Regions from separate parts of the Homo sapiens genome. Here region 1 is linked to region 2. Evidence: fine-mapped expression QTL. Tissue or cell type: monocytes. Region 2 holds a variant in brackets; the other region holds the start of a gene. All regions are shown on one strand. Distances are between the middles of the regions.

Region 1 (2,760 bases), 75 kb after region 2:
AAAGACTTGAATAATAAACACCAAAATATTGCTTATTATCTGTGTTAGGATTAAACTTTTCTACTACTTTTAGAATTAGACAACACACACCCATATAAAGATGTCATGGCTGGAAATGACTGACCTTTTGTTTGAATCTAAGTATCATTCATGTCAAGACCGCATTGAAAATAATGCTGTTCTTAAGCCAGGCAAGTGTAGACGTTGTAGATTTCATAAAAGATTCACACTATTTCATGAATCACAACTTGAATCGACTTCTGTTAGCCTTCATTTTACGTCTAGGCCCTCATTTCTAATTCTTCCTCAGCTTCCATATTATCAAGATGTAAGATGCAATTGTGGACATGAACATAGAAACACAACCGCCTCACAGGTGTGGGGAAGGAATATAAAATAATTGTATTTTAGAGAACGACCATAAAGGAGATGGCAATTTTGAGAGAAAGTAACAGAACTGCAATGACCTAGTTTTGTGGTGTTAATTTAAATGTGGCATCTTCCATGAGAATTTTATAAAGGGAGCTCTCCTAAAACCGAGATTCACAAAAACCTGGAAGGGCCCTACAGGGATCAGGTGCCCTAGCTATTCAGCGATTTGCCTTTGCTTCCCTAATTCCTGCATTGTGCCACTGGGTTACAAGTGTGTGTGCGCATGCACACAGGGGTGTAGGTTTGATGACAGTGGTGAACTGCCTTGACTGCCTTCACAGGCTGAATCCCCCGCAGGCAGTAACCATGGCTAGGGAAAAACAGGCAGCCGCGAGGACAGTTCCGGAGGAGACAACACCAGGCTCCCGTAGGGAAACTTTTGGGAATGGAGATGGGGGATTCCATCCTTTGCGTGCAGACCCAAGACTTCGATGGTAGCTCGGACAAGTCTGTCATTGTTTTTGTCCTGGGAAATGACACACGAAGTGCTGTAATTAGACACCTAAGAAACGATTACTCTGGAGTGTGCGCGAACCGAATCTGGGGGGCCGGTGGGGAGCAGGTAAGGGGCTGAAAGGCACCGTCTCCTCCAGCTCTGTCGGAAGCCTAAAGCCCTCTGCTTCTGGGCGCCCTTAACAAACGCGCCAGACAGGTGATGTCTCCGAGGACGAGCAGGAGCCCCCCTTCGCGATCTGCACCAGAAGCCTCGGGGAGCCGGGGCCACGGCGCGGCGGTGGCGCAGTTCCCAGCCTGCGCCCAGTCCCGCCGCAGCTCCCGGCGCGGCCCGGTCATCCCGCCTCCATATGCTCCGCCACCGCCGCCCGGGCCTCCCTCAGCCCTCCCGCAGCTCCGCATTCCACGCTGCGGCAGCCGCAGCCTCGCCGCCTAGGCAGTCCACACCCCTCCCCTCGGGCTGGCGCAGCCACTCGGGCCCCGAGCCCGCGCCCCCTTGGGGGCCTCCGCTGGGCGCGCCGGCCGGACCCCGCCCGGCTTGGCCGCCGGCTGGGGCTGAGGCTCGGGCAGGGCGGGGGCGGGGAGTGGAGGGCGTGTGCGCGCGCGTGTGCCGGGGCCGGGGGGCCAGGCCGCCATATTGGATCCAGACTCGTCCGCAAGCCTCCGCCTCTGTGCGGCGGGACTGGAGGAGCCTCGCTGAGCCCAGGGCGCGAGCGCGAGAGGAGAGGGAAGGCGGGGGAGGGCTGGAAGGGAGAGGAAGGGAGTGGTTGGGAGCCGGGCTGCCGCAGCCTCTAGTCTCCTCAGCCGCGGAAGCGACCCCTCCTCCTGCGCCGGGCCGCCTCCCTCCTCGCTGTGGAAAGATGCCCTTAGCCCAGGGGTGTGAAGAAGGGGGAGAAGTAGCTGCCAGAGCCGCCCGCGCCGCCGCCGCAGCTGCTGCTGCTTGTGTCCTTTGAATTCAGAGAAGCACCCCCCCGCCTGGGGCGTCGGGAGCCTCCGGCGCGGCGGCCCGGTGCGGGTGTCGGGGAGACCGGGCTCTCTGCCCGGCGCGGCGCGGCGCGGCTCGGCCCACGAGCGACCACCGACATGGAGTGGGCTCGGGCGGCCAAGTAGCCGCTTCTCCGGAGCCCGGTGCCAGTGCCGCCCGCAGCCCGCCTTCCACCCCCGGCCGCGCCGCCGGTCAGGCCCTAGGGTGAAGCCGGGAGGAAAATGAAGAGTTTTCACCGGAATCCGTTGAAAATAGGACTGACTGCAAAGCCTTAAAGAAAGAAGGACCTCGGGAGGAGAAACGAAAAGCCGCCTCCGGGCAAGACTTGGCGTGCTCCGAGCCGAGGGGCTGCTTCAGGGACCTCGCCCCCTCCCTTTCCCGCTGGAGAAATTGCCGCTGATGCATTATCCAAGTGGTGGTTGGGAGGATTTGCAGCAACATTTTTGGTTTTCCCTCCCCCTTCTATGCATTCTGTTTTTTTCCTCCCTTTTCTGTTTTTCTTCTTCCCGGGAAGTGAATTGCTGATGCAAATCGGACTTTATTCATTAATGATGCAACCGGATTCGTTTCAGGATTACGTTGCACGAGTTGAATTTTGAATGAAGGAGAAGAGTTTTTTTTTTTTTTTTTAAAGAAGTGTTGACTCTCTAGTTCGTTGTACTTTTAATTATTATTTTATTTAAATATACGACTTAATTGTATTCTTTTAAAAATGCATTAAGTATATATTTTATGGTAATTTACCCTCAAAATATATGTATATGGGTGAAATTGAAGACGCTTCAGTTAAGTGAGGTTACTGGTGTGTTGGATGTTTAATTCAGCACCAGCATTGCATGACAGTTGTTTGAATAACAAGTGGTTTATTTTTAAAACCATACCTTTTAAAA
Region 2 (2,760 bases):
ATACAAAAATTAGTTGGGCGTGGTGGCACACGCCTGTAATCTCAGCTACTCAAGAGGCTGAGGCAGGAGAATTGTTTAAACTCAAGATCACGCCACTGCCCTCAAGCCTGGCAACAGAGTGAGACTATGTCCCCCCCAAAAATATTAATTGAAATATTAATTGAATATTGATTGAATATTAATTGAATTATCACTACTTGAAGCCAGAGGCAAGGCAGGCTTCTCCTACTCTAGAAAGGAAAAAGAAGAGGAATATTTAATAATTTAGATGTTCTTAGAATATGGAATTGTTAAGTATGCAAGTTAACACTATGAGGACAACTACTAAAATAAATAAGATACCATGTCTGGCTCCTAAAGTAACAGCAGAAGAAAAAAGGACTATAGAAAATGTTTTCAACACAAGAGAAGGAAGGAAAAAGGAAAAAATAAGCAAAGAATGATAAACATAAGATGAAAAAATAAGAAAATTAAAAATAAGTTGAAACATTATCATTAGCCTCAGCAACCATAAACGTGTTAAACATTGACTTTCAAAAAGAGATTATCAGAATGATTTTTTTTTTCCAGACAGAGTCTCGCTCTGTCACACAGGTTGGAGTGCAATGGCATGATCTAGGCTCACTGCAACCTCCAGTCCATCAGGATCAAGCGATTCTTCTGCCTCAGCCTCCCAAGTAGCTGAGATTACAGGCACACGCCACCACACCTGTATTTTCAGTACAGACAGGGTTTCACTATGTTGGTCAGGCTGGTCTCAAACTCCTGACCTCAAGTGATTCACCCGCCTTGGCCTCCCAAGTGAGAATGAATTTTTTAAAACCCCAAATCCGTCCAGGCGTGGTGGCTAACACCTGTAATCCCAACACTTTGGGAAGACGAAGTGGGCAGATCACCAGAGGTCAGGAGTTCAAGACCAGAGACCAGCCTGGTCAACATGTTGAAACTCCGTCTCTACTAAAAATACAAAAATCAGCTGGGTGTGGTGACACATGCCTGTGGTCCCAGCTACTCAGGAGGCTGAGGCATGAGAATAGCGTGAACCCAGGAGGCGGAGGTTGCAGTGAGCCGAGATTGTGCCATTGCACTCCAGCCTGGGAGACAGGAGTGAAACGCCACCTCAAAAAAAAAAAAAAAAAA[AT/T]GCATTGAATACACCTAACTTACCAAACATCACAGCTTAGCTTAGCCTAAATTAAATGTGCTCAGAACACATACATTAGCCTACCATTGGACAAAACCATCTAATACAAAGCCTATTTTTCAATATCTTGTGTAATTTATTGAATACTGTACCGAAAGTGAAAAATTGAATAGTTGCATGGTTACTTGAAGTATAGTTTCTACTGAATTGCTTTTAAAGCATTGTATAGTTGAAAAATTGTAAGTTGAACCATCGTTATCAGTATAGGCAGGGCCGTGCTCCCTCTGAAGGTGCTAGGAAAGGAATTACTCCATGCCTCTCTCACAACTTCTGGCAGCTTCAGATGTTCCTCACCTTGTAGGTGCACCACTCCAAGCCTGTCTTTACATGATGTTTTCCCTGTGTGTCTTCACATCATCTTCCTCTGTGTCTATGTCTGTGTCCATATTTCCCTCTTCTTTTAAGGACACCAGTCTTGTTGGATTAGAGGCCCACCCTACTCCACTATGACCTCATCTGAACTTAGCTAATTGCATCTGCAATGACCCCGTTGCCAAATAAAGTCACATTCTGAAGTACTGGAGATTGAAACTTAAACCTATCTTTGGGCAGGGGGCACAATTTGACCCATAACAGAAGGAGGCATCAGTAAAAATAAGGGCAGAAAAGGCTGAAATAGAAACCAAAGTCATAAAATAGAGTAAATAAATACAAATGAAAGTTAGTTTTAAGAAAAAAATCCGGTTTGATTACCCAATCTTTAATAAGACTGATAAAGAAACAAAAGAGCACAAATAAACTATATTAGGAATCATAAAGAGATACAATTGCACCCACAGATATATAAAATCACAGATCATTGCACTATAAAAAAGAATACTTATTTATTTATTTATTTATTTATTTATTTATTATTTTTGGAGATGGAGTCTCATTCTGTTGCCCAGGCTGGGTGCAGTGGTGCCATCATAACTCACTGAAGCCTCGAAATCCCAGGCTCAAGCAATCTGCCTGCCTCAGTCTCCCAAGGAGCTGAAACTACAGGCATGTACTAGCATGCCTGGTCAATTTTTTAAAAATGTTTTTGGAGAGATGGGGTGGGGGGGCGGGTCTTACTATGTTGCCCAGGCTGGTCTTGAACTCCTGACCTCAAGCCATCCTTCCACCTCAGCCTCTCAAAGTTCTGGGATTACGGATGTGAGCCATCATGCCCAACCGATATTTATTTTTAAAGCAAATTCTACAGATCTTCGAGGGAATAGCACTTAAGACTATTTTTAAAACTTGGATGGGTAGGTGATCACATATCTCTATTTATAATAGCTATGTGTCTTCTCTTAGCTATATTGGATTTTTTTTTTTTTTTTTGAGACAGAGTCTCACTCTGTCACCCAAGCTGGAATGCGGTGGCGTGATCTCGGCTAACTGCAACCTCTGCCTCCCGGGTTCAAGCGATTCTCCTGCCTCAGCCTCCCATGTAGCTGGAATTACAGGCACCCGCCACGCCTGGCTAATTTTTGCAGTTTTAGTAGAAATGGAGTTTCACCATGTTGGCCAGGCTAGTCTCAAACCCCTGACCTCAGGTGATCCGTCCGCCTCACCCTCCCAAAGTGCTGGGA

Which allele goes with the higher level. Alleles are on the strand shown, and positions count from the first base shown. SD is a standard deviation of normalised expression in the study named.
For the expression in monocytes of the gene that starts at base 1,520 in region 1, allele T in region 2 goes with a higher level than allele AT (moderate effect, 0.57 SD a copy in Quach 2016).

The links. PIP is the estimated chance that this variant, and not a neighbour inherited with it, causes the effect.
Region 1: CDC42BPA starts here. The variant in region 2 is fine-mapped to the expression of CDC42BPA in monocytes (Quach 2016, PIP 0.95).

Annotation. Positions count from the first base shown.
Region 1 is chr1:227,317,252-227,320,011 of GRCh38, reverse strand. CDC42BPA (CDC42 binding protein kinase alpha) reads left to right here and starts at 1,520. Exons shown (of 37, transcript NM_001394014.1): 1 at 1,520-2,760. It overlaps LOC124904531 (a long non-coding RNA gene), which reads right to left and starts at 1,420. Exons shown (of 2, transcript XR_007066911.1): 1 at 1,014-1,420; 2 at 1-898.
Region 2 is chr1:227,392,440-227,395,199 of GRCh38, reverse strand. LINC01641 (long intergenic non-protein coding RNA 1641) reads right to left here and starts at 1,646. Exons shown (of 4, transcript NR_187381.1): 1 at 1,496-1,646. The variant AT/T (reference allele first, on the strand shown) is at 1,141.